Linked DNA regions of Homo sapiens. The protein of the gene in region 1 purifies or fractionates together with the protein of each later gene. This does not show direct contact. Each region holds a gene or a part of one and is shown in the gene's direction. Other genes may lie near its edges.

What was found.
Region 2: the proteins of DUSP4 (region 1) and GATD3 purify together in Homo sapiens (affinity purification with mass spectrometry, with the first as the bait; one large-scale study listed by BioGRID). This does not show direct contact.
Region 3: the proteins of DUSP4 (region 1) and ACOT7 purify together in Homo sapiens (affinity purification with mass spectrometry, with the first as the bait; one large-scale study listed by BioGRID). This does not show direct contact.
Region 4: the proteins of DUSP4 (region 1) and CAD purify together in Homo sapiens (affinity purification with mass spectrometry; one large-scale study listed by BioGRID and IntAct). This does not show direct contact.
Region 5: the proteins of DUSP4 (region 1) and SRM purify together in Homo sapiens (affinity purification with mass spectrometry, with the first as the bait; one large-scale study listed by BioGRID). This does not show direct contact.
Region 6: the proteins of DUSP4 (region 1) and DSG2 purify together in Homo sapiens (affinity purification with mass spectrometry; one large-scale study listed by BioGRID and IntAct). This does not show direct contact.
Region 7: the proteins of DUSP4 (region 1) and LARS1 purify together in Homo sapiens (affinity purification with mass spectrometry; one large-scale study listed by BioGRID and IntAct). This does not show direct contact.

What each region holds. Positions count from the first base shown.
Region 1 is NC_000008.11:29,344,185-29,347,684, reverse strand, and holds part of DUSP4 (dual specificity protein phosphatase 4), read left to right. Parts: intron 1-1,610; exon of another isoform or gene 1,611-2,155; coding exon of another isoform or gene 2,156-2,315; intron 2,316-3,500. UniProt on the Homo sapiens protein: Regulates mitogenic signal transduction by dephosphorylating both Thr and Tyr residues on MAP kinases ERK1 and ERK2.
Region 2 is NC_000021.9:44,132,246-44,136,482, forward strand, and holds the start of GATD3 (glutamine amidotransferase-like class 1 domain-containing protein 3, mitochondrial isoform 1 precursor), read left to right. Parts: upstream 1-1,437; 5' UTR 1,438-1,452; coding exon 1,453-1,593; intron 1,594-1,856; coding exon 1,857-1,909; intron 1,910-2,664; exon of another isoform or gene 2,665-2,723; intron 2,724-3,814; coding exon 3,815-3,928; intron 3,929-4,237.
Region 3 is NC_000001.11:6,282,268-6,285,767, reverse strand, and holds part of ACOT7 (cytosolic acyl coenzyme A thioester hydrolase), read left to right. Parts: intron 1-3,500. UniProt on the Homo sapiens protein: Catalyzes the hydrolysis of acyl-CoAs into free fatty acids and coenzyme A (CoASH), regulating their respective intracellular levels.
Region 4 is NC_000002.12:27,230,869-27,234,368, forward strand, and holds part of CAD (multifunctional protein CAD), read left to right. Parts: intron 1-599; coding exon 600-712; intron 713-1,111; coding exon 1,112-1,356; intron 1,357-1,579; coding exon 1,580-1,826; intron 1,827-2,173; coding exon 2,174-2,272; intron 2,273-2,443; coding exon 2,444-2,668; intron 2,669-2,757; coding exon 2,758-2,940; intron 2,941-3,139; coding exon 3,140-3,358; intron 3,359-3,500. UniProt on the Homo sapiens protein: Multifunctional protein that encodes the first 3 enzymatic activities of the de novo pyrimidine pathway: carbamoylphosphate synthetase (CPSase; EC 6.3.5.5), aspartate transcarbamylase (ATCase; EC 2.1.3.2) and dihydroorotase (DHOase; EC 3.5.2.3).
Region 5 is NC_000001.11:11,057,219-11,061,353, reverse strand, and holds the start of SRM (spermidine synthase), read left to right. Parts: upstream 1-1,335; 5' UTR 1,336-1,410; coding exon 1,411-1,577; intron 1,578-2,008; coding exon 2,009-2,129; intron 2,130-2,461; coding exon 2,462-2,554; intron 2,555-4,135. UniProt on the Homo sapiens protein: Catalyzes the production of spermidine from putrescine and decarboxylated S-adenosylmethionine (dcSAM). Has a strong preference for putrescine as substrate, and has very low activity towards 1,3-diaminopropane. Has extremely low activity towards spermidine.
Region 6 is NC_000018.10:31,504,677-31,508,176, forward strand, and holds part of DSG2 (desmoglein-2 preproprotein), read left to right. Parts: intron 1-3,500.
Region 7 is NC_000005.10:146,151,651-146,155,150, reverse strand, and holds part of LARS1 (leucine--tRNA ligase, cytoplasmic), read left to right. Parts: intron 1-1,170; coding exon 1,171-1,258; intron 1,259-1,340; coding exon 1,341-1,417; intron 1,418-1,923; coding exon 1,924-1,977; intron 1,978-3,148; coding exon 3,149-3,289; intron 3,290-3,500. UniProt on the Homo sapiens protein: Aminoacyl-tRNA synthetase that catalyzes the specific attachment of leucine to its cognate tRNA (tRNA(Leu)).

The sequences.
Region 1 (3,500 bases):
CCGACGCGGGCAGGGAGAATCATCTTCTGCATCTCAAAGTGGACATCCTTGCAGATGGAGGTGTGCAGGCCTGGGCCACAGATTTAGCTTCGGTCTCTTCTAGAATAGCCCCTCCTAGCCAGAAGTTCAGCTTCTGCTTCCAAAGGGAGCCTGCCCTTGGAAGCAAGCACCTAAAATTGAGAGGTGGGGGAATCTTCCAGCCTGCTCTGTTGTGGTGAACATCGTTGAGGTTAACTGGGCCCTATTCGGTTTAGCTTAGCTGATTTTGACATATGTGTTCAGCAGAGGCCATCTTTAACCCAGTTCCTCTTCTTCCTCTTTGCCCTCTAATGGAAAGGCATCCCTAGAGAGGTCAGAAGGAAAAAGTCAGTATCTGCTCCCACAGCTCTGCGGGAAGGGGCTGGGGAAGGAAATCAAGGTGTCTCCCAGGTCTCCAGATACACCTCCCTTCCATGCCTGGAAGCCAGTGCAGTGGAGCAAATGTGGTTTCCCGGGAGGGGGCTCTGGGGCAGAGACCTAAAGGGGAATTTTGAGAAGCAAAGGAAGAAAAAGCCCCTTAGATTATCTTTAGTAAATGCCTGAATTGGTGAAGGGTTGGAGAATTTGTTTCCTACTGGAGTAATTCATTTTATTTTCCAGCGAGGGAATGTATGTATGTCTCATTTCAGGTGTGCCTGTGCGTGTCTGTAAAGCAGGACAGGAAGCCAGTGGAAGGCTTGATGGTTGGTGTCTGCCATTCTTGGAGGGGTTAGGAGAAGCAGTAAAAGCAACAAGAGTATTTTCAGAAGTGATAGTAGCATGTCCAGCCAAAGCTATCTAATTCTATTAATTGCATTTTAAAATTCAGTTTTTCTATTTCTGCCACGTTGAAGGGTTACTTCAACCACGTTGAACTGGTTACTCCATGCAGGTGGCAGGAGGTAAACTTCGCTTAATATCAAGAAAGTACAGCCTAGCCTTTACATTTCCTCAGATTACCCGACTTTTGCTAAAAGCAATAACGAAAAATCTAATGTTTTCTATCTTTGCTAGTAAAGGATTTCCAGTGGGGTAATTTTTTTAAAACTCATTTAATTTAAAATCTTGTAAGGCATTTTTAGAGTCAGTTTGGAAATTTTAGTTTTTCAGATTTTATCACAATACACTTCTTGAAATCCCTTTCTCTCTCATTCGTAAATCCTTGGATTAGAGTTTGAGACTCCCCTGGTCATTAGAGAAAGACAAAAAGAGCTTTTTCTTACCCTATTCTTTGCCTTTATTAACCCCAAATAACAAAATAATCTGTTATGCAAAAAGATTGCAGGTATAAAAACATTACCTTCCTTTCCACCTACCTAAAACTTCCCTCAGCCTTTGTCAGTTCTAATTTAAAAGCTGTCCTGGAGCTGTTGGAGAAATGGGGAAGATCATCTAGATATTCCAGTTTCTCCTTCCACTCACCCTATAGTACCGGATAGCATCCAATAGCCCAGGGCCTGACCATACAGCCCATGATATTACCCTTTCTGTAGAAAACAGTCACTAAGGCCACTGATGAATGTGGGGGGAGAGGAACACAATTAACAGCTCTGGAAACTCTGGTGACATTTTTCTGTTTTTTCTCTCTCTAGCCCCACCATTGCTCTCTCTGTCTTCAGTTCCCCAGGAGGGCAATGGCATCAAACAGCACAGCTCTGGGGGATGTCAATATTGCATACCTTTTCTACCTAAAGGGAAAATGACTCGCTTTTCTGCTTGCAAATATGGTAGTTTCTGCTTACAAATGTAATACAATGCCCATGACAGCCAAGGACTGGAAGCATAAGTTGCTAGGTCTTACAGGTGATTTTTTACAATGAAGCAAACTCACTATGTTAGACACCATTTACATTGGATGTCTCCAACTAACAAAAGTAACTAAAGACAGATGTAGGTGTAAATTGAGAGTGAAATTTGACCCTTTAGACCGTCACAACTTCCTTGGGCTTATCCTGGGTGCTTATAGGAGAGGTGGGCTCCACCCACAAAAATGGACTGCTCAGAAAAATGAGGGAGAGAGAAAGGGTGGCCACTTTCCCGAGCCAAGAAATTCCTTGAAAAAAAATCAGAACATCTGAAACCAGAGAGCCGATTTCCTTACCGGGAGGCAGTTCCTGGCTAACGAAGAGGAAGCACGATGGGAAGAAAAGTTCACTCCAACGGAAGCCAGTTTGCTGAACATAGCAGATCGCCCAGGAGGACTGGGAGAGACTGCAAACCAGTTCGAGCCCCCAGCATGGCGTTAGGTGTCAGCCAGCTGGCAGGAAGGTCCAGGTGTCTGTGTTCAGAGTCTCAAGGTGAGAAGTTCACTTAGTTGGATTTTAAATACAGCTCAGCATTTACATAGGTGCTTACTAAGTCAACAGTCACATAAAGTAGAGTTCCCAAAGGCAAATGGCCTTCAAACAACCCCAGACTTTCTTGCAAGAGCATGACTTTTCTGGCAAGAGCAAGGCCATGAGCCCTGCCTGGGACCTGGCACTATTCTGAGTGTTGGGGGCATAATGGGGAAAAAGTGGCAGCCACATTAAGATTCATGACCAAGGCCGGGTGTGGTGGCTCACACCTGCAATCCTAGCACTTTGAGAGACTGAGGCAGGCAGATCACTTGAGGCCAGGACAACATGGCAAACTTGGTCTCTACAAAAAATGCAAAAATTAGCCGGGCGAGATGGCATGTGCCTGTAATCTCAGCTACTCAGGAGGCTGAAGCAAGGAGATTGCTTGAGCCCAGGGAAGTCAAGGCTACAGTGAGCCATAATCGTGCCACTGCACTGCAGCCTGGGTGAGAGAGTGACAGTGACAGACCCTGTCTGGGGAAAAAAAAAAAAAAAAGATCCATGACCATAGTCACCACCAAAGGACAGTCTTCCCCATCACAAATCCCAGTAACAGTCCTATTATGGTGATATTATCAATCTGCCCTTTGTAAAGTACTTTTACATACATTATCTCCTACTCCTGCAAGGGACGGGGGAGTGTGGTGGAGGGCTTCTAATGAGGGGTCCTCATTTCCACTAAACTTGGAAAATTGCCTCCCTGTATGAGGATGTGAGAAGGAGGAGGCACAGTGGAGTTGAACTGTAGATGGAGTTATTCTTAAGTAAGTCTGATGAAAATCACACTCCTTTTTTTCTTCCAGACTTTCAAATTGTAAAATAAAGGTGATAAAATGAGAGATTTAGGAATAGAAAATATATTCTTAAATAAGGACATGGGAAAAACAGGTTGAAATTAGTAAGAAACCTCTTATGGAATTACATTCAGTAGGACACAGACACGTTCAATACATTCATTTCATACATTCAAAGGGCATAGGAAAAACAGAATTCATTCATTCAGAATGGCACATTTGATAATGAAATTATTCAGGAGATAGAAATGCAGATTTTAGGCACCTGCTGCTTCAGAGCTGGCAAAACTGACACGCAAATAAGTAGATCCTGGATATTTAGAAGCAGAGGATATTGGAACTTAAAGAT
Region 2 (4,237 bases), on another chromosome or scaffold:
AGCTGATGCTCCCTGGCTGGCCGCTCCCCAGGAGCTGAGAAGCCTGAAGAGGGCCAGGCACGGAGGAGCAGGAACGAGGACAGTCAAATGTGCCAAGCTTGTCTTTGGTTGTAACTGGTAATGTCCCATGTCTGTTATTCTAGTTCCCCACTATCTTGCAAGGATTGGCAGTAAAGTCCTAGTGATGGACAACGCGGCAGTGGGGAAAGTGACAGCCGTGGCTAGATCATCAGATGTGTCTGTAGAATCCGGTGTGTCCCTGTGAACATCCGCCAGCAGTAACCATTCACATTATTTCAAAAACCTGCATTATTAGGTTGAAAATGGGTAAATCGGGGAAAAAGCCAGCACTTATCCAGCTATTCCTCTGTGAACTAACCCATGCATAACAAACAGATTTTTTTAATGGAAGAATTCCAGCTAGGACCCGAGCAGCTGGGATCTTCACACTGACCGTCCATGCTGTGAACGTAAAAAACAAAAACAAAAAAACAAACCCAAACAGCGCCCGGGAATGGTGGCTCACGCCTGTAATCCCAGCACTTTGGGAGTCCGAGGCGGGCAGATCACCTGAGCTCGGGAGTTCAAGACCAGCCAGACCAACATGGAGAAACCCCGTCTCTACTAAAAATACAAAATTAGCCTGGCGTGGTGGCGCATGCCTGTAGTCCCAGCTACTTGGGAGGCTGAGGCAGAAGAGTCGCTTGAACCTGGGAGGCGGAGGTTGCGTTGAGCCGACTTCGCGCCATTGCACTCCAGCCCGGGCAACAAGAGGGAAACTCCGTCTCAAAAAAAAAAAAAAAAAAACCCAAACAGAATCGGCGGCTCACTTGCCCCCAGACTAACCCAGATCAAGCCCCTGGGTGGAACTGCAGTTTCCAGGATACAACATCCCGGGGTCAGTAAAACCCGGAGGGGTCGCTCCGTGGGAGCCGGAGCCGCGAGGAGACAGTCATGGAAGCGGAGGGGTAGTCCTGACCCCGCGTGGGTCCTGACGCCGAGATTAAGACGAGTGGCCATTTAGGAGGATGTGGACCCTGGACGCTCGTGGTGAGTTAAGGATGAGACGGAGGTAAGGTAAGAAGCGCCGGACTGAGCCGCCCCGAGGCAGCCTTGCTCTGCGGATGGCGGAAAGGGTGCGCCGCCTGTGGAGGCGTCCGATGGGGGCGGGGCTGGGGACCCCGGGAGTCACCAGCATCCCTCAGCCTCGAGCACGAGCCCTCAGCCACCACCGGAAGGAAGACAGGGTTCCCGGAACTCTATTCGGAGGCTCTGCGCAGGCGCGGCCCCCGCCCACCGGCGAACTCACTGGATAGGGCTGAGACGGGGGCGGGTCTTGGCTCCGCCCAGAAGGCTGCGCAGGCGCAGTCCCGACGAGCAACGCGTTTGTAGAGGGGTGGGTGCGCACGCTCTGTCCCTGCGTGACCTTCCGACCCCGCTGTCCTCACCGCAATGGCGGCTGTGAGGGTCCTGGTGGCCTCGAGGCTCGCTGCGGCATCTGCATTCACGTCCCTGTCCCCCGGCGGTCGGACGCCTTCCCAGCGCGCAGCCCTTCACCTCTCCGTGCCGCGCCCCGCGGCCAGGGTCGCGCTGGTGAGTGGACGGAGGGGGTGAGGTCAGCTCCCGCCTCCAGAGATCAGCCTTCGCTGTTCTCTGCCCAAGGTCGGCCCCTCTTCCTAGGTCCGCTCCCGCCGCCCCACGTCGGCTCCTTCACCCCAAGTCAGCTCCTGCGGCCCAGGTCGGCCCCATTTTCCCGGGTCAGCGCCCGCGGCCCAGGTCGGCCCCTTTCCCCCCAGTCAACTCCCGCCGCCCAGGTCGGCCCCTTTCCCCCGGGTCAGCTCCCGCTCCTCTCGCAGGTGCTGTCTGGATGCGGAGTCTACGATGGGACCGAGATCCACGAGGCCTCGGCGTAAGTCCTCAGGGGCAGCTGGTCCTCCACCCCGGGGGCCTCGAGAAGGCCTCTCCACCAGTGAAGTTTACTCTTTTTTGAACAGCTTAGAGAAAGCATGTATTTTATTTTATTTTTACTTTTTGTCTTTTGAGACAGCGCCCAGTCTGGAGTGCAATGGCGCGATCTTGGCTCACTGCGGCCTCCGCCTCCTGGGTTCAAGCGATTCTCCTGCCTCAGCCTTCCGAGTAGCTGGGACTACAAGCATGCACCACCACACCCAACTAATTTGTGTATTTTTGGTAGATACGGAGTTTCACCATGTTGGCCAGGCTGGTCTCAAACTCCTGACCTCAAGTGATCCTCCCGCTTTGGCCTCCCAAAGTGCTGGGATTACAGGCATGAGCCACTGCACCCGGCCGAGAGAGCTTGTATTTTAAATACCCTATTCTTGGCTAAAAAAAAGCAAAAACGACTTGCAAAACCCAGGGAGACGCTAAGAAAGAACAGTTTTTAAGTGTCGCTTATGCTGTCACCTAGAGCCTAGAAATGACTTAGCATTTCACTTGAGTGTTTTTCAGGACACACACATTTTGAAAACACTGAGATCACACTCACCCGTGTTTTGCAAATGTTTCTGACGCATGGGAAGTAATTCCCATTCATTCAGTTCTCAACATCATTTTAACAGTTGCGTGGTATTTCTGGGTCCTAGACAGGTTACTGTTTACGTAACTGGTCAGCTGTTGCTGAGTGCTTGGTGGCCTGATTTCCTGTGCTACTGGAAATGACTGCAGGCCGAACCAGTAGGGCAGGAGGCCACCACGCGTGCCAGGTACCTGTAGTTCCCATGTGGTTCAGGGTGAACTGGAGAGGGGAGAGCTGGGTGGTGGCGAAAGGGGTGTCAGGCCATGGAGAGTGGCCTGAGGCTGGTGGCTTTGTGGGTGGCCCACCTTGGCTGGTTGGAGTTGGCACTAGGCAGAGTGAGCTGGGGGAAAGGGCCAGGATGTGTTTCATGATTTGGCCTTGGTGGGATAGAAAATAGCCCCAGAATAGCTTGAGCCCTCCCAGGCAGAACGGCAGGGTCTTGTGTCTGGGGTGTCTGGGTGGATTTCTTATGGGTAGCGGAACCCAAGTGCCAGGGCCAGGTGCTGACCTCTCCCTCTGGCAAGTCACTGCACTTCATGCCTCGGTTTCCTCCTCCACGTAAGGGGCAGTGAGGGCTTAGTGTGTGGGTGGGCTTAGCCACCTATCTCCTGTTGGCACTGGGAGTTGCGGATGCCAGCGTGAGCCCCCATAATGTCAGCTGTTGTCCCCAGGAGGAGCTTCTGTTGCCCTTGCCCTTGGGGAGATGGAGCTGCCTGGCCTGTGGTGTTGTCCTGGGGTCTCTTGTGTCTCTCCCACCATCTGTGATGGGAAAGTTGAGGGAGACTAGAAATTGAACTAAGTAGTGACCGAAAGCCCCGTCACACCGTCTGTGCACGTGGCACTCTGAGCACACTGCTGCTTCTCACTCTTGGTGCTTGCAGCAAGCAACTGGAGGAGGGCAGCCAGGCCCTGGGTGTAGGTAGAGCACTCAGCAGCCGGGGACCCGCACGCCTCCAGGCTGTGCCCTCAGTGGAGTCACCCGGCCCCCATACCCCAGTTTGCAAAGGGAGCTGTTGGGACCAGCTGATCTCCATAGCCCACTTCTGAGGGTTTGTCATAGTCGTAACCCACCAACCGACAGTGAATTGGAATGGGGGTGTGGGGGACGTTTGGCTTGGTATGGAACCAACTGTAACTTTTTGCAGAGCAAGTAAGATATTAATATACATTAGGAATTTGCTCCTGGTACTTAGCTAAAATCCTGTTTTTAAAAATGTGTTAACACAAATCTGAGTGGGGCACGTTTTGAAGAGTTGTCTCTGGTTTTCCCCCGTGCAGGATCCTGGTGCACCTGAGCCGTGGAGGGGCTGAAGTCCAGATCTTTGCTCCTGACGTCCCTCAGATGCACGTGATTGACCACACCAAGGGGCAGCCGTCCGAAGGCGAGAGCAGGTGTGGGGGTGGGATTGGAACTTGCTTCTTGTCTACCTCCCACGGTGCAGCCTTTTTTTGCTGGCTTAGCTTAAACCAAGTCTTGTGTGCAAATGAACGTCCTTCTGAGCAGCTGTGCTCGGGCTGTTCCAGAAGTAATGCTGCCAAGGCTCAGGAGTGCCTTCCTTCCAGTACTCACAGAAGGACTGAAAATGGCGACCGGATCGCTTCCCACTGAGTCAGGCTGCTCATACCTTGGTCTTAAGCAAAGGTGGTGGTTCTCAGCTTGGTCGCCCACCTTCTTCCCCTGTCTGGGCTCCAGATCTGTTT
Region 3 (3,500 bases), on another chromosome or scaffold:
CCTGACCTCCGTGTGACACGCCAGGTCTGCAGGCAGTGCTTGTCGGGCCCTGCCTCTGCCTTTCCTGTCAGGTTCAGGGCTCCCGAGAGCCACCTGGACACGCTGTCTTCAGCTCTCTGATGCATGACCAGCCTCACCCGCCTCCACATTTGGTGGAGGGACCTGTGGGCATGGTCATGATTTGGCCGGCAGCCTGGATGGTCCAGGCTCTGACCCAGTGGGAGGAATGACAGCACATGGCTGCGCCATGGAGGAATTAGCAGGAAGGGCGGAATCAGTCTGTGCTGCCCCGTGGGCAGGTGACGGCCAGCACGTGACTGCCCCCAGGCTCTCCACCCTTTTGCAGGGAGGAAGGGAGGTGGACAGGTGTGGGGCTCCAGGGCAGGCTGCTTCCAGGAGTGGCACTGAAGTTGAGACTGGAAGGAAGTACCGGCCAGCAGGGCTTGGAAGGGGCTGCTGGCCATGCTCCTGGGCACTCCTGATTCTGGGCTGCTCAGCATCCACTTCAGGAGGATGCAAACCTGGGGCTCTAATGGGGCTCTGGCCAGCTTGAGTCTGTGGTGACCTGGTGTCCACATGTGACCCACACCCCAGCCCTCGTGGGTCCCCAGAGGGGTCCAGCCTGTCAACTGGATACCTGCTTTGGGCCCCCTGGGCCCAGCCCTGCCCTCGTGGGACTTCCAGGCTAGATGGGGACAGACAGACAACAGTGAAATAGACAAGCCAACAAGTGTGCCAATGCAAATGGGGTCGTTGGCTCTGCAGGAGTGGAGGACAGTTCTAGAGGGGGTGTGGTGGAGGGGGCTGAGCCGCCCTGGGCAGCTCTCTGGAGAAGGGATGCTTGAGCCGAGGTTCAGAAGATGAACCAGATAGCTGTAAGAGGAGGGCTTTTCTAGGGAGAGACCACGGGGGCCAGGAGCTTCAGGGAGCTCACAGAAGGCCACTCTGGTGGGGTGTGGAAAGCAGGGGGCAGGCTAGGGGCCCTTGTAGAGGCTGAGGCCAGTCGCTCATCACCCCAACCCCACCTGGATGGACCTCCGTCCCCAGGGAGGCCTCGATGCTGCAGGGGGGCCTCTATGTGACCTGGAGGAGGCGGAGAGGATTTGGTGTGCGCCTCAGCCGCCATCCTGGGGTTGACAAAGTGCCTGTAGCTGGAATGCTGGAATTCTTTTTTTTTTTTTTTTTTTTTTTGAGATGGAGTTTCGCTCTTGTTGCCCAGGCTGGAGTGCAATGGCATGATCTCAGCTCACTGCAACCTGCGCCTCCCGGGTTCAGGCGATTCTGTTGCCTCAGCCTCCCAAGTAGCTGGGATTACAGGCATGTGCCACCATGCCCGGCTAATTTTGTATTTTTAATAGAGACAGGGTTTCACCATGTTGGTCAGGCTGGTCTCAAATTCCTGACCTCAAGTGATGAGCCCGCCTCGGCCTCCCAGAGTGCTGGGATTACAGGTATGAGCCACTGCGCCCGGTCTGTAGCTGGAATTCTTCAGGAAGGGCTAGAGCAGGAACAGAGCCCTGGGGGTGGGAGCTGGTCCCCCCGAGGTCCCCTGGGACAGTCCCTTCCCAGAGGCTGCCTGTGAGACCTTGGTGTCATGTGTGGGATGTGCCTTCTGAGCCCAGGGTCTAGGAGATGGGATACCCTAAACCAGGGCCCCTGGAAACTGGGCTCTCTCTTGGTGACTGGGACTTGTGATTCGTCTGTCAACCCTAGGTTTCAAATTAAGTCCCAGCCAGTGACCACATCAGATTTCCAGTTTTTTTCTTTTTTTCTGAGACAGGGTCTTGCTCTGTCACCCAGGCTAGAGTGCAGTGGTGCGATCTCAGCTGACTGCAACCTCGACCTCCTGGGCTCAAACGATGCTCCCGCCTGAGCCTCCCGAGTAGCTGGGACCACAGGCGTGTGCCACTATATCCAGTTAGGTTTCCAGTTTTAAAGTATTTCACTTTGTCCTGCTAGCCAACCTTATAGCCTGTGTCTTGTTTAGAATAATGATGTTGCTCTCTGAAGGGTGAAAATTCTCAGATTTTGGTTGTAATTGAAAATTTTCCTGACATTTATGAAGTGTTAATTGTATTATGGACCACAAGAGGCTCTCCCAGACAGCATTCTCTTCTTTTTGTTGTTACGTCTAATGCTTTTATAATCAACCTACTTAGTTGTTTAAAGTCATTGTTGATTGCTGTTAGGAGTTTCTTCAGATTTCTAACACAGCAATTAAGCCATGAGCAGCCAGGATCTGGCCGTGGCAGCAGTGGCCAAGGTGGGCCTTCATGGGCAACACCAAGAGCATGTTTTTGGAGCCTGGGCGGAGTGGCTCACACCTAATTATAATCCCAGCAATTTGGGAGGCCGAGGCAGTTGGATCACTTGAGGCCAGGAGTTCTAGACCAGCCTGGTCAACAAGACAAAACCTCATCTCTACAAAAGATACAAAAATCAGCCGTGCATGGTGGTGCACGCCTGTAATCCCAGCTATTTAAGTGACAGGTGTGACAGTCGCTTAAACCTGGGAGACAGAGGTTGCAGTGAGCCATGATGGCACCACTGCCCTCCAGCCTGGGCAATAGAGCGAGACTCCATCTCAAAAACAAAAACACGTTTTCTGTTGCTCCTCAAAACTAAGAGCCAGTGTTCAAAGACCCCTGGAACCTGCCCTCCTCCAGGCACCACGCTCATGGGTGGCCCCCGTGTGTGACACCGTGGCCACAGGGAAGTTCTTGTTGGTTTCTGCTCATGGAAAGGGCTTGTTCCTGCTTTTTGGCCTGTGACTCCCAAGTGTTATACACAATTGTTGGTGAGGGATGTGGGCTGGGCATTGTGAGGAAGGAGGCAGAGATGCTGGGAGACCCTCAGGTCTGACCTGTTGAAACTTCTAGCTCCTTAGCTGGGGCCTGACCCATGGCCTGCCCTCCTCCCGGGGTGCGTCTTGTGACTGCGGGCGCTTTGCATGGGACTCTGTACCTTACAGCTCACGTAATGCCTGCTGGCGCTGACCACACAGCTCCTTCCTCCTCTCCCAGCACTGGCACGAAGTGCTCCCTGTAAGTATGAAGTTGAATGTAGCATGGATCGTTCTGATACTTTTTAACATGGAATAACCGCTCTTGCCTCTGGCCTGCTAACCGCCCTCCAACAGCCACCACCTGGCCGCTTTCTCACTCTGGGTCTCTAAACCTGCCTTGTGAGGCTGGTCTCGGTGCAGCTAGGACACTGGGGGTTCCAGAGGCCACATTAAAAAGTCCCCGAAGCCAGATATATTTCCTGGGGAGCAAGTCCCAGCAGCCAGAGTCGGGCAGGGATATCCTTGAGCCTGGCCCAGAATAGAGGCCACGCTGGGCCGCCTGGGAGGGCATTCTGACCGCAGGGCAGCACTTGCCCCGGAAGTCCCCGGGGGTTTCTGCAGCCTGGTGGCCAGTGACATCGATGGTGACACCTTCCCGGGGCCCCAGGTCAGCTCTTGGCTTGAGTCCTTCCATCCCGTAGCTATCCCCCAGGCA
Region 4 (3,500 bases), on another chromosome or scaffold:
ATGGGGATATATTCCAGTATCCCCATGCCCGTTTTAGGCATATTGATTCCATATTCATCAATAAGCACAAAGCCTGAGCTTATCCATGAAAATAGCAGGGAAAAGAGCTATAAGTTAAGATTTCTTTTTGTTTGTTTGTTTGTTTTGTTTTGTTTGAGACGGAGTCTCGCTTTGTTCCCCGGGCTGGAGTGCAATGGTGTGATCGCTGCTCACTGCAAGCTCCACCTCCCGGGTTCACGCCATTTTCCTGCCTCAGCCTCTGGAGTAGCTGGGGCTACAGGCGCCCGCCACCACTCCCGGCTAATTTTTTTGTATTTTTAGTAGAGACGGGGTTTCACCATGTTAGCCAGGATGGTCTCGATCTCCTGACCTCGTGATCCTTCCGCCTCAGCCTCCCAAAGTGCTGGGATTACAGGCGTGAGCCACTGCGCCCGGCCATTAAGATTTCTTAGTTGTGAAACACCATGAATCCCACCATCATGTGACTTGCCTTGAGAATCTCCCAGAGTCTTGACTATAAACCATAAGCATTATGGGCAGTGCCTTCTTCCCACCCCTTCCACCTCCACACCTTCATTCCTTCCATTCTGTTCTTCCAGGTGAAGTCATGGGCATTGGGCGTTCATTTGAGGAGGCCTTCCAGAAGGCCCTGCGCATGGTGGATGAGAACTGTGTGGGCTTTGATCACACAGTGAAACCAGTCAGCGATATGGTAAGTAGCTCCCCTCCCCTGGCAATACCCCTAAAATAGACCCTGCTTCTCATCGCCCCCAGACCATGAGCTTGTTACCAGTAACACTAGCAGCAGTCATCATTGGACATTTGCTTTGTTTCCACTTTGCTGAGAATTTTGAGATGTCTCATTAGCACGCAAGGGTGTATTACTAGACTTGTTTTTACAGATGAGGAAACTGAGACATAGGTTATAGAAATTACTCAAAGCCACATAGCCAATGAGAGGTAGACCCAGGATTGGTATCCAGGTTTTTGCAGTTACACAGCCTGTGCTCTGGTGTACAGTTTCCCCTTCCTGAGACAAGAGCAGCTACTTACGCTCAGGCTTTTAGATGGGCTGGCAGTAGCTTCCGTCTGTCTACCCCCTTTCTATCAGGAGTTGGAGACTCCAACAGATAAGCGGATTTTTGTGGTGGCAGCTGCTTTGTGGGCTGGTTATTCAGTGGACCGCCTGTATGAGCTCACACGCATCGACCGCTGGTTCCTGCACCGAATGAAGCGTATCATCGCACATGCCCAGCTGCTAGAACAACACCGTGGACAGCCTTTGCCGCCAGACCTGCTGCAACAGGCCAAGTGTCTTGGCTTCTCAGACAAACAGATTGCCCTTGCAGTTCTGAGGTCAGAGGTGGCAATGAGAGCTTCCGGCTGGGAAATGTGGGGCAGAACCTTTGTATCAGTGAGGGACCCTTGGGAGGGAGGAAGGAGAGTGTGGGAGAGCTTTAGAGGCTTCTGACCTTGGTTCCAAGGATATTTCCTCTCATCTGTGCCCTGGGGTCTCAACCCTCTATCAGTCTGTACCCTACTCTCTGGGCCTGTGTTTCAGACCCTTTTTCTATTTTAGCACAGAGCTGGCTGTTCGCAAGCTGCGTCAGGAACTGGGGATCTGTCCAGCAGTGAAACAGATTGACACAGTTGCAGCTGAGTGGCCAGCCCAGACAAATTACCTATACCTAACGTATTGGGGCACCACCCATGACCTCACCTTTCGAACACCTCATGTCCTAGTCCTTGGCTCTGGCGTCTACCGTATTGGCTCTAGCGTTGAATTTGACTGGTGTGCTGTAGGCTGCATCCAGCAGCTCCGAAAGGTCAGAGAGTTCATTTTCTTTCCACTTTCCTTGCTATTCTGTTCATCTCTAGCAATTGCTTGGCACTAATCCTGGCATTTCCTATTAATTGCCGTCCCTTACTTTGGTCATAGAGCTTTGGGGTGGGGGTCCTTTTAGGCCATCTCTCATGCCCCACACGGTATATGAATCTCTTCCCCAACACTTTGTACCTCCTTCCCTCCCAAGGCAGGGGTCCTGTACAGCTCTTTCAGAGGAAGCTGTGCTGGCAGTCTCTGAAGTAGGGGCTTTGGCTTAGTTTCTCCACGATTTTCTCCACGATTTTCCTCCCACCTGACTGCTAAGTACCCTTCCCCTCCCTCTTGCAGATGGGATATAAGACCATCATGGTGAACTATAACCCAGAGACAGTCAGCACCGACTATGACATGTGTGATCGACTCTACTTTGATGAGATCTCTTTTGAGGTGAGGGAGATGGAGGCTTCCTGGTAGCTTGAGTGGCCAGGGTCGAGTAGAACAGCTGGCTGACCTAAGATTCTTTGAAACTTGGTGGCGGCTGAGGGAAGCAGTGAGCAGGAAGGCTCAGATTCCTGCCCTCTTTTGCTGCCACCACTTGTTTCTCCCCCTGCAACGTAGGTGGTGATGGACATCTATGAGCTCGAGAACCCTGAAGGTGTGATCCTATCCATGGGTGGACAGCTGCCCAACAACATGGCCATGGCGTTGCATCGGCAGCAGTGCCGGGTGCTGGGCACCTCCCCTGAAGCCATTGACTCGGCTGAGAACCGTTTCAAGTTTTCCCGGCTCCTTGACACCATTGGTATCAGCCAGCCTCAGTGGAGGGAGCTCAGTGACCTCGAGGTGGGCTGGGACCTGGTGGGTTACCCGGAGGCTGGATGATGCTTGGGGGAAAGTGTGAACAACTCAGCTAAGCTCCCTGCCTCCTGTAGTCTGCTCGCCAATTCTGCCAGACCGTGGGGTACCCCTGTGTGGTGCGCCCCTCCTATGTGCTGAGCGGTGCTGCTATGAATGTGGCCTACACGGATGGAGACCTGGAGCGCTTCCTGAGCAGCGCAGCAGCCGTCTCCAAAGAGCATCCCGTGGTCATCTCCAAGTTCATCCAGGAGGCTAAGGTGGGAGGCTGCAGACAGTGAAGTCTCTGAGGGCATGCTGCCAGCCCTGGAGGAGACTTCCTTCTCTGGTCCAGCAGAATCATAGGCACCAGGGCTGGGAACAGTGGGCTATGTGGGGCTCGTTAAAGGAAGAGACAATCCTAGAGTAAGTGAGAGAAGAAAGTGGCCCTATGTCCCACTGTCTGTGTCCCCCCGCTAGGAGATTGACGTGGATGCCGTGGCCTCTGATGGTGTGGTGGCAGCCATCGCCATCTCTGAGCATGTGGAGAATGCAGGTGTGCATTCAGGTGATGCGACGCTGGTGACCCCCCCACAAGATATCACTGCCAAAACCCTGGAGCGGATCAAAGCCATTGTGCATGCTGTGGGCCAGGAGCTACAGGTCACAGGACCCTTCAATCTGCAGCTCATTGCCAAGGTAATAAGGCTAAAGGAAAGAACTAAAGGGCCACAGCTCTTGCATGTTCTGTGCTGGCCACAGTGCCATGAAGCCCTGCACTGTCTCCTGCCTTCATCCAAGTAGGCAGGGAAGCTGGAGGGAAAGGGCTGTAGCTAGAGCT
Region 5 (4,135 bases), on another chromosome or scaffold:
CCGAGTAGCTGGGACTGCAGGCGCGCACTACCATGCCCAGCTAATTTTTGTATTTTTAGTACAGACGGGGTTTCACCATGTTGGCCAGGATCGTCTTGATCTCTTGACCTCGTGATCCGCCCGCCTCCGCCTCCGCCTCCCACAGTGCTGGGATTACCGGGGTGAACCATCACGCCCAGGCACCTAGCAATTCTTTAGCGGTCTTGGTTTACCTCCCCTTTAGAAGGAGCTTAAAAGCAAGCAAGGCACATTGTTGCCTAGGCTTGAGGCTTGCTCTCACCCATAAACAACGCTGTTACTCTGCTCTGGGGACGACACAGGAAACGTTCCCCACCTCCAGGTGGAGGCTGCAAAACGTGTCAAAACCATCCCTGACATAATGTCAAGAGTAGCTTATACTAGTTTCATCTTCCTTCCTTGGCATTCGAACTGCGTGTGGAACAATTAGCATTTAATATTTGGTAATTAGCATGCTTAATGTGATTCTGAGAAGTTCTTTGACATTCTCATAAAAACAGCACATTCCCACCCACCCTTCAAAGAGCAAGACCCAGTTTGTCAAGAAAAATTGCGTGCCAGTCTTTTCTGGTGCTGAATATGTATGTTCTGGGCCTCTTCCTGGACACTGCTGGTAAATTTAGAAACTCGTTTAGAAAAGCACTTCTCTCGTATTCAACAGCCTATAGGCTCATGGCGCAGAATCTAAGGGAAAATGGCTAAATCCAGCTTGTGAATTCGCGGGCTGTGATGATTCTTTCCAAGTAAATAAAAACCCTCGGTTCGCCCCGACGAGCCACATAATCTGTTCAAATCCAACAAGGAACCAGATTTTGGACGCAAAGAAGGATACGTTCTACTCGCCCCGTGCAACAACGTAAACCACTGTAGCCACCCGCTCCCGTGTCTCCAGCCCAAAGGCTGACTCTCCAGTCCGCACGTCGCAGCGCTCTTGCCCTCCACACCAAGCCCGAGTCCCGCAGCCCCTCGAGGCCCTCGGTGCCTCCCAACCCCGAGAAGGAAGCGGGGGCCGGTGGTGCACCGCCCCGGCTGCTTGGGGCGGAGGAAGGACCCGGACCCCTTCCGCCGGCCCAGCCCGCCCCGGAACCCGACCCGGCCGCCCGGCCCCGGCCGGGCCCCACGTGGCCCCTGGAGCGGGCCGCACTACCCTGCTGCCGCCGACGGACGGCGCGCCACAGCCACTCTGCGCCGCTCTGCGAGCCGGTGGCCAATGAGCGCCAGGCGAGGCCGCTTTGCCATTGGCGAGCGCGGGCTCCGCCCCCGCCGGCAGGCCCCGCCCCGCGCCCGGGTTAGGTTGCGGCGCGGGCGGCGGGCGGAGCTGGTCCCGTTGTGCTGCGGCGCCGCGCGGCCTGCAGTCCCGGGCCCGCGCCCCGCGCCGCCCGCCCGCCCGCCATGGAGCCCGGCCCCGACGGCCCCGCCGCCTCCGGCCCCGCCGCCATCCGCGAGGGCTGGTTCCGCGAGACCTGCAGCCTGTGGCCCGGCCAGGCCCTGTCACTGCAGGTGGAGCAGCTGCTCCACCACCGGCGCTCGCGCTACCAGGACATCCTCGTCTTCCGCAGGTACCGCCGCTGCCCGCAGGCGCCTGCCCCCTAGGCTCAGCCCGGGCCGCCTGCTGCCCGCCTCACGGGCCTCTCCACGCCGGGACCCAAGCGGGCTGGACCTCGTCCTGCCCTGGCCCCCTCGCCACCCCTCACACCGCCTCCCTGGGCTGGGGCTGGGACTGCGGGCTGGCCTCTTGGGTGGGGGAGTCGGAGTCTGCGCCCCGCTCCACGTGTCAGCCCTCAGGACACGTCAGAGCCCGAGGAGACCCCGGGTCCCACCCCGGCCTCCACCCGGCGGCCCGCCTGCCGTTCCTCGCCACGTGTCACCATCGCTCCTCATCCCTGGGACCCCTAGGCGGGATGGGGAGACCCTCCTCACCCAGGGCGGCTTGGGGTACGTTTTCCCCACCCCAGAGAACCCAGGTCCCCGACTGTCACTCCGCCCGCAGTAAGACCTATGGCAACGTGCTGGTGTTGGACGGTGTCATCCAGTGCACGGAGAGAGACGAGTTCTCCTACCAGGAGATGATCGCCAACCTGCCTCTCTGCAGCCACCCCAACCCGCGAAAGGTACCCCAGTGTCCCCTGGAACAGTGCCGGACGAGGGGCGGCCCCAGGTGTGCTCCGGGCTCTTCCCAGATGCTGCCTGCATGGTTGTCAGAGAAAGTGCTAGCGAGGCCAGGGGCGTCCCGCGGAGGGGTGGGGGCCGACACTGACGCGGCCTCGGAATCCTAGGGCAGCCCTGGAAGGAACTTCCAGGAAAGGGGACACCGGCACGAAAGCGTTTCCGAGGGTAGAAAAAGATGAGGCCCGTGGGTCCGAGGGGTCAGGGGGTCTGCTTCAGGGGCCTGGGGGCTCCCAGTCCTGCCAGGGCCCCTGCCTTGACTGCCCCCTCCTCCCAGGTGCTGATCATCGGGGGCGGAGATGGAGGTGTCCTGCGGGAGGTGGTGAAGCACCCCTCCGTGGAGTCCGTGGTCCAGTGTGAGATCGACGAGGTGAGTGCCGGCGTAGAGCCAGGTTTGAGTCCTGGTTCTCCCAGCGGCCAGCTGTGCCCTGAAATGGCTGCACACCCCCGAGCAAGGCAGGTAGGGCCTGTTTCTCCATCTGGAAAACACCTGGTCGGGGAGGGTTCAGTAGGAAAACCAGATGGCAGAGGGCCTGGCAGGTGGTGAGGGCACCTGCGTGGCGAGCTCTTACTAAAACTGAGCTGATTTTTTTTTTTTTTTTTTTTTTGAGACAGAGTTTCGCTCTTGTTGCCCAGGCTGGAGTGTGATGGTGCGATCTCGGCTCACTGCAACCTCCACCTCCTGGGCTCAAGTAGTTCTTCTGCCTCAGCCTCCGGAGTAGCTGGGATTACAGACATGCGCTACCATGCCCGGCTAATTTTGTATTTTTAGTAGAGACAGGGTTTCTCCATGTTGGTCAGGCTGGTCTCGGACCTGGCGACCACAGGTGATCCGCCAGCCTCGTCCTCCCAAAGTACTGGGATTACAGGCGTGAGCCACCACGCCCAGCCGACTAAGCTGATTTTTAATCTGAGCCCCAGGCAGGGCCCCAAGACAGCTCAACTATTTGTACGTTACCCCTTACACTCAGTAGCTGCTCACTAAAATCATGCTACGTGCCAGGTGTTGCCCGGGTATGGGGACAGTGGTAGACGACAGATCAGTCCCTGCCCTCTAGGAGCTGATGTCCTAGTTAAAGGAGACATCAGATGGCCAGACGTGGTGGCTCACACCTGTAATCCCAGCACTTTGGGACGCCAAGGCGGGCAGATCACCTGAGGTCAGGAGTTCAAGAGCAGCCTGGCCAACCTGGTGAAACCCCATTTCTACTAAAAATACAAAAATTAGCCGGGCATGGTAGTGCATGTCTGTAAACCCAGCTACTAGGGAGGCTGAGGTGGAAGAATTACTTGAGCCCGGGAGGCGGAAGTTGCAATGAACCGAGATCTCGCCACTGCACTCCAGCCTGGGTGACAGAGGAAGAATCTGTCTCAAAAAAAACAAACAACAAAAATAGAGACATCAAAGGATGGTCTGATGAAGGCAAGACAGGGGCTGGGGGACAGGAGAAGGCAGGGTTCCTGTGAATGCATGGGGGGTGGTCAGGGCAGGCCTCCAGGAGGTGGCGTTTGAGCTGAGACCTCAGTGAAAAGCAGGTGGCCGTGTGCAGGGAGGGGGAGGTTCTCCTGGCCAGAGGTTGGAATTGCATCCTTCTAAAATAGGAAACAGGCCAAGCGCTGGTGGCTCACACCTGTAATCTCAGCACTCTGGGAGGCTGAGGCGGGCAGATCACAAGGTCTCTACTAAAAATAAAAAAAAAAAAAAAAAAATGGCCCAGCTTGGTGGCGTGCGCCTGTAATCCCAACTACTCGGGAGGCTGAGGCAGGAGGGTGCAGTGAGCTGAGATCGTGCCACTGCACTCCAGCCTGGGCAGCAGAGCAAGACTGTCTCGAAAAATAAATAAAATAGGAAGCGACAAGAAAGCCACTCAGATGGGGCGATTTGGTCTGGAAGGAGGGGGTAGGGATGGGAGAGAGGAGCCCAAGCCGCCGGCAGGAGCCAGCTCTCAAG
Region 6 (3,500 bases), on another chromosome or scaffold:
AATGTCCCCAGTGGCCAGGCAATCCATGCTCGTCATTGAGCCGCACTGCCCTGCTCTCTGTTATGTAGCATCTCTCCGCCCTACTCAGATACTTTCCCCAGGACCTAAGCTTAACATGTCTACAATCTGTCTTCTGGAAATTGCATCTTTCTAGCCACTCAGACTGAAAACGTTGGCACCCTCTGACTCCTTCCCTATTATCCCCACACAGGGCATTGCCAAGGATTTTTGTCCCCATAAAGACTCCTACTTCTACCTGTCTATCTCATTGCCATTCCCCTGATACTGTTCCTCATTCCATCTCCCTGACTTAGTAATTTAATCTCTGAACTGTCTCCTGCCTTTTATCTTGCACAGTACTGCCAAAAAATCTTCAGAATCACTAGCGACATAGTCTCCCTAATCAGAAGCTGGCAACGACTCTCCACTCCTTATAAGATCAGTGAAGAGCCTCAGCTCAACGCTTTGTCCTTATTTTCTACTTGCCACCATCGTATAGTTCTAGGTGCCAAACTGCACTACTTCTCATTTTTTGTCCAAATATCTCCATGTTCTGGCACATGGAGTCCCTCATCTGTGCGTTTTCCTTCCTCCTGTATGCACAGAAACAGATTATCTTCCATTTCCAAGGCCAAGCCCATTGCTATCTCCTTGCTAAACCTCTCCTGATTTCCCCGCAAGGAAGTAATCTTGCCTTTTCTGAGTTCCCCAGAACTATTTTTATAGCCGTCAGTTATACAATTAAGGTTTCCTACCTCATAGTAGTTTGATCCTCCTATTAAACTGTAAGCTTCTTCAGAGCAAGATCTTTGTATCTTTTATCTATAAACTAGCTAAATGCCTTGGGCACGGACGTATTCTTTAAAAATGTGAGTTAAAGTATCTTTCTGTGTTTAGAAAAGCTGGAATAATGATATGGATTTCATGTGTTTAAGAGAATTATTTAATGCCCAGATAGGTTAAGTAGTAATTTTTTTTTCTTTTTTTTTTTTTTTCTTTTTTTTGAGATGGAGTCTCTCTCTTTCACCAGGCTGGAGTGCAGTGGTGCAGTCTCGGCTCACTGCAGCTTCCGCCTCCCAGGTTCCAGCGATTCTCCTGCCTCAACCTCCCGAGTAGCTGGGACTACAGGTGCACGCCACCACGCCCATCTAATTTTTGTATTTTTAGTAGAGACAGAGTTTCACCATGTTGGCCAGAATGGTCTTGGTCTCTTGACCTGGCCCGCCTCAGCCTCCCAAAGTGCTGGGATTACAGGCGTGAGCCACCGCACCTGGCCGAGTAGTAAATTTTTGTTTAAATTTTATGCATTTAGCAGTCACAAATTGGGCGTCTACTATATGACCAACAGTCTTCTAAGGACATGTGAACTGCCCCCTGCAATCCTGGAGCTTACAGTGGAGAAAGGAGTATAAGGACAAGAACTTGACATTTTTTGAATATCCGCTGTGTGCCAGTCACTGGATTTAATGAAAGTTAATAATGGGTGAAACTGAATCAAACCCAGGTTCACCTGGCACCAAATGCCTGTCTGTCAACCCAGAGGCATCATCGTGAATTCCCCTTACAGCAGTTTGCTACAGTGAGTCATCAATAAGGTCCGAACTTCTGGAACTAGATAATTAATTTCACTGCAAATTAGAATCATTCTAGAAAGGAAAAAAACAAGAAATGTAAATTAAGATTTACCTCATTTCAGAGATATAATCCTGCAAAACTGTACATATAACTTTCTAAAGCCCTTGATTTTCACTCTTTTCAATTTTGCTGATCCACTTATTTGAGACCAATGAAACGCCTGCTTCCCACTTTAGACCTTGGAATTGCCTGTCGGTTAATTTCTGGTAGTTCCTGCAGTTTGCCTTACTGACAGGCCAGTGCCATCTAATGGTAAAAAAGGACAGTCTGAAGCTCTTGGTTTTCTTAAACTGCCCAGTGAAAAGAAATCATTTTCTTCATTTTACTTTTCAGTTCAGGAATATATTGCAGCAAAAGAGTGGAGACAACCTATAATTTTTGTTTATCAAATTTTGTGAAGTCTGTTATACAGCTTTATTTATATTTTGCCTAATTCCAAAAGCATTTGTGGCCATTACAGAAAACACCTACCAATAAAAGAGTAAAATATTTTTTACATGTCTAGTCATTTAATAAATGCTATTTTGAATTGAAATTGTATTTTAGTTAGTTTGCTTGTTTGAGCAATCCAACGACTTCAAGGAAAAGAAAAAGTATCGTTTTGCTTTTTTGTTTTTTCTTTTTTTTTAATTATACTTTAAGTTCTGGGGTACATGTGCAGAACGTGCAGGTTTGTTACATAGGTTTACACATGCCATTGTGGTTTGCTGCACCCATCAACTCGTCATCTGTATTAGGTATTTCTCCTAGTACTATCCCTCCCCTACCCCCACAGCCTCAACAGGCCGCAGTGTGTGACGTTCCCCTCCCTGTGTCCATGTGTTCTCGTTGTTCAACTCCCCACTTATAAGTGAGAACATGTGGTGTTTGGTTTTCTGTTCTTGTGTTAGTTTGCTGAGAATGATGGTTTCCAGCTTCATCCATGTCCCTGCAAAGGACATGAGCTCATCCTTTTTTATGGCTGCATAGTATTCCATGGTGTATATGTACCACATTTTCTTTATCCAGTCTATCATTGATGGGCATTTGGGTTGGTTCCAAGTTTTTGCTGTTGTGAATAGTGCCTCAATAAACATATGTGTGCATGTGTCTTTATAGTAGAATGATTTATAATCTTATGGGTATATACCCAGTAATGGGATTGCTGAGTCAAATGGTATTTCTGGTTCTAGATCCTTGATGAATCGCCACACTGTCTTCCACAATGGTTGAACTAATTTACAGTCCCACCAACAGTGTAAAAGCATTCCTATTTCTCCATATCCTCTCCAGCATCTGTTGTTTCCTGGCTTTTTAATGATCGCCATTCTAACTGGTGTGAGATGGTATCTCATTGTGGTTTTGATTTGCATTCCCCTAATGACCAGTGATGATGAGCTTTTTTTCATGTTTGTTGGCTGCATAAATGTCTTCTTTTGAGAAGTGTCTGTTCATATCCTTCACCCACCTTTTGATAGGGCTGAGTGTTTTTTTCTTGTAAATTTGTTTAAGTTCCTTGTAGATTCTGGATATTAGCCCTTTGTCAGATGGATAGATTGCAAAAATTTTCTCCCATTCTGTAGGTTGCCTGTTCACTCTGATGATGGTTTCTTTTGCTGTGCAGAAGCTCTTTAGTTTAATTAGATCCCATTTGTCAATTTTGGCTTTTGTTGCCATTGCTTTAGGTGTTTTAGTCATGAAGTCTTTGCCAATGCCTATATCCTGAATGGTATTGCCTAGGTTTTCTTCTAGGATTTTTATGGTTTTAGGTCTTACATTTAAGTCTTTAATCCATCATGAGTTAATTTTTGTATAAAGTGTAAGGAAGGGGTCCAGTTTCAGTTTTCTGCATGTGGCTAGCCAGTTTTCCCAACACCATAAAATGG
Region 7 (3,500 bases), on another chromosome or scaffold:
GACGGGCACGGTGGCTCATGCCTGTAATGCCAGCACTTTGGGAGGCAGAGGTGCGTGGATCACCTGGGGTCAGGAGTTCAAGACCAGCCTGGCCAACATGGTGAAACCCTGTCTCTACTAAAAATACAGAAATTAGCCAGGCGTGGTGGTGCATGCCTGTAATCCCAGCTACATGGGAGGCTGAGGCAGGAATCGCTGGAACCTGGGAGGCGGAGGTTGCAGTGAGCCGAGATCATGCCATTGCACTCCAGCTTGAGTAACAAGAGCAGAACTCCATCTCAAAAAAAAAATTATTTTTCCTCTAGTAGGTATAAAATAATGTGTTTTGTTTTACTTCATATGTATTTTATTTATATTCTTTTCTTTATTTTTTGAGACGGGGTCTCCCTCTGTCACCCAGGCTGGAGTGCAGTGGCACGATCTTGGCTCACTACAACCTCCACCTCTCGGGTTCAAGCAATTCTCCCGCCTCAGCCTTCCAAATAGCTGGGACTACAGGCGCATGCCACCACGCCTGGCTAATTTTTTGTATTTTAGTAGAGACGGGGTTTCACCATGTTGCCCAGGCTGGTCGCGAACTCCTAAGCTCAGGCAATCTGCCTGCCTCAGCATCCCAAAGTGCTGGGTTTACAGGCGTTAGCCACCGCGCTCAGCCTGTATTCATTTTTTAATTGACAGAAATTGTATTTATGGTACGCAATATGTTTTGAAATATATATACATTGTGAAATGGCTAAATTGAGGTAATTAACAAATTTATACCTTACGTACTTACCATTTTCTGTGGTGAGAAGAGTTAAAATTTAAATCAGGTGCAGTGGTATGCACCTGTAGAGCCAGCTACTTGGGAGGCTGGGACCTCAGGAGGCTTGCCTGAGCCCAGGAGCTTGAGCCTGTAGAATGCTATGATAGCACCTGTGAATAGCCTCTACACTCTAGCCTTGGCAACATAGCAAGGCTCTGTCTCTTAAAAAAATCTACACAGCAATTTTCAAGTATAAAATACATTGTTATTTCCTATAGTCACCATATTGTACAATATAGCTCTTGAATTTATTTCCATATATTTTTGATTACTAGCTTCTCAGGGCTTAAAATATTAACATAGTTTTAATTCTAATGGTCACAATGAATTACTTCACCTTTTATATTGATTTTTTTCTTATGCAGGAAATTCTTGGTGCATCACTTTCTGCACCTTTAACATCATACAAGGTGATCTATGTTCTCCCAATGCTAACTATTAAGGAGGATAAAGGTAAAGAGTTTATTTATTTCTAGAAATATTTTGATAAACACATTTTGGTTCTAGTTATTAATTCCACACTTTGTTTTCTAAGGCACTGGTGTGGTTACAAGTGTTCCTTCCGACTCCCCTGATGATATTGCTGCCCTCAGAGACTTGAAGAAAAAGCAAGTAAGTATCTGAGTTTCATGTTTGTATTTCGTCCTCACCATCTCATTGCTTAGGTGCTGCTGAACTACGCTGTGGGACTAGGCTAAAAAGCTATGCATTTATCTTTAAACTGCTATCTCTAACTTGTTTCTTGATGTTAATATATTTTCTGTGGTTTGAATTTTAAATATGTTCACAGAATTTTGAAAAAGCTTTCTGATATTCACATTTTCATTGAAATCTGGCATATGAACCTCAATTTAAGTGATATGTGTATGTCTATGTACATTTTTGCTTTTGGTTGTGTGGTTTCATTTAGGCTATTCACTATAACTTTAGCTATTAAATTTTTGAAGGTTACAGATCCCTTTTGAGATATTTGGCAAAGTTAGAAAATTGCTCTCTATGGAGAGGAGAACAAATAGAAACTTTAAAGAAACTTTTAAGAAACTTTGGAGATTGCTTCTCTCAATGATTCTCCCAGTAAAGTGTTGATCATTAGTGTTAACTTGCAAATTTTTCTGTAGGCCTTACGAGCAAAATATGGAATTAGAGATGACATGGTCTTGCCATTTGAGCCGGTGAGTACATAGATAATTCAGAATATTCACATCCATCTCTTTATCAGAGAAAAAGAAGAGCTAACATGTTTTCCTTATAACAAAATTAATTGGTGGAGTATGAAAAAGAGAGTTTGCTTAAGGATTTACTCACTTTAATTTGATACCTGCTATGGTAGATAAGAGCAAAAGGAAAACTAACAAGCATTTTCTTACCACCTGGCACCTGCAGTTCTGGAACAAATAGCTTTTTAGCATCACCAATTTTATAGTAGCTTGCTTTGCTAGTGTGATCAATTTCCTGGCTTCTAAAGATAAAATTTTGCCCTTTTCATGAATGTTTATATGTAACCATAATAACTTTAACAAAGTCCTGTACAACTCTGTTTTATGTTTCTTGTATTTTCATGTTAGTATCTATAGAAGAAAAACTTTTAAATTACTAGCAAATGATTTTCATTTCATGAAAGATCCAGAGGAATTAATATAAACCAAAAGCACAACCATCCATGAATCTAGTTGTTTACATCAGCAGGCCCCAACCTTTTTGGCACCAGGGACTGGTTTTGTGGAAGACAATTTTTCCATGGACCAGCAGGGTGTGGTAGGGGAATGGTTTTGGCATGAAACTGTGCCACCTTAGATCATCAGGCATTAGATTCTCATAAGGAGCAAGCAACCTAGATCCCTCCATGCACAGTTCACAATAGGGTTCGTGCTTCTATGAGAATCTAATGCCACCCATGATCTGACAGGAGGTGAAGCTCAGGGGGTGATGCTCGCCCGTTCCTCACCTCCTGCTGTGCAGCCTGGTTCCTAATGCCATGGACTGGTACCGGTCCACATCCTTGGGGTTGGGAACCCCTGGTTTACATCATTTTGCTAGTTTCAGTATGAATTACTTAGGTAATTATATGCCAGTGGAGGATAGAGTGTTGGGAAAGGTGTGTGTGGTGGGGGAAGGGCATTGGGGGTGTTGGTACACAGAGTATGGGTGGTTCCTGTGGAGAGTAGAAGGACAAATTTACATCTGGAAGTTAGTCACTCTGTGATTACTTAATGTGTGGCAGTGTCGTAATGACATATACAATCTGAAATGACTTAATTGGACATTAGAGGCAAAAGGACTTGTGCCCTACAGAGCTGTGTGTCCAGTCAGTGTGAACACGTTCCTGATTGCTGTTTGCTGCAGGTGCCAGTCATTGAAATCCCAGGTTTTGGAAATCTTTCTGCTGTAACCATTTGTGATGAGTTGAAAATTCAGAGCCAGAATGACCGGGAAAAACTTGCAGAAGCAAAGGAGAAGATATATCTAAAAGGATTTTATGAGGGTGTAAGTAATAATTTTTTTTAGTTTTTATTTGCTTTACTCCATGCTCTGTGATTTTCTTAATTAGAAAAAATGTAGAAAAATTTAACATAGTTTCAGCTATACATTGATTTGAGAGCTTAATATGAGAATGTATTCTATTTCCAAATTTCTAATTTTTGTTTTTATCATGTCCTTTGCCTAAAAGCATTTTCAGAAATTGTCTTTTTCGTGC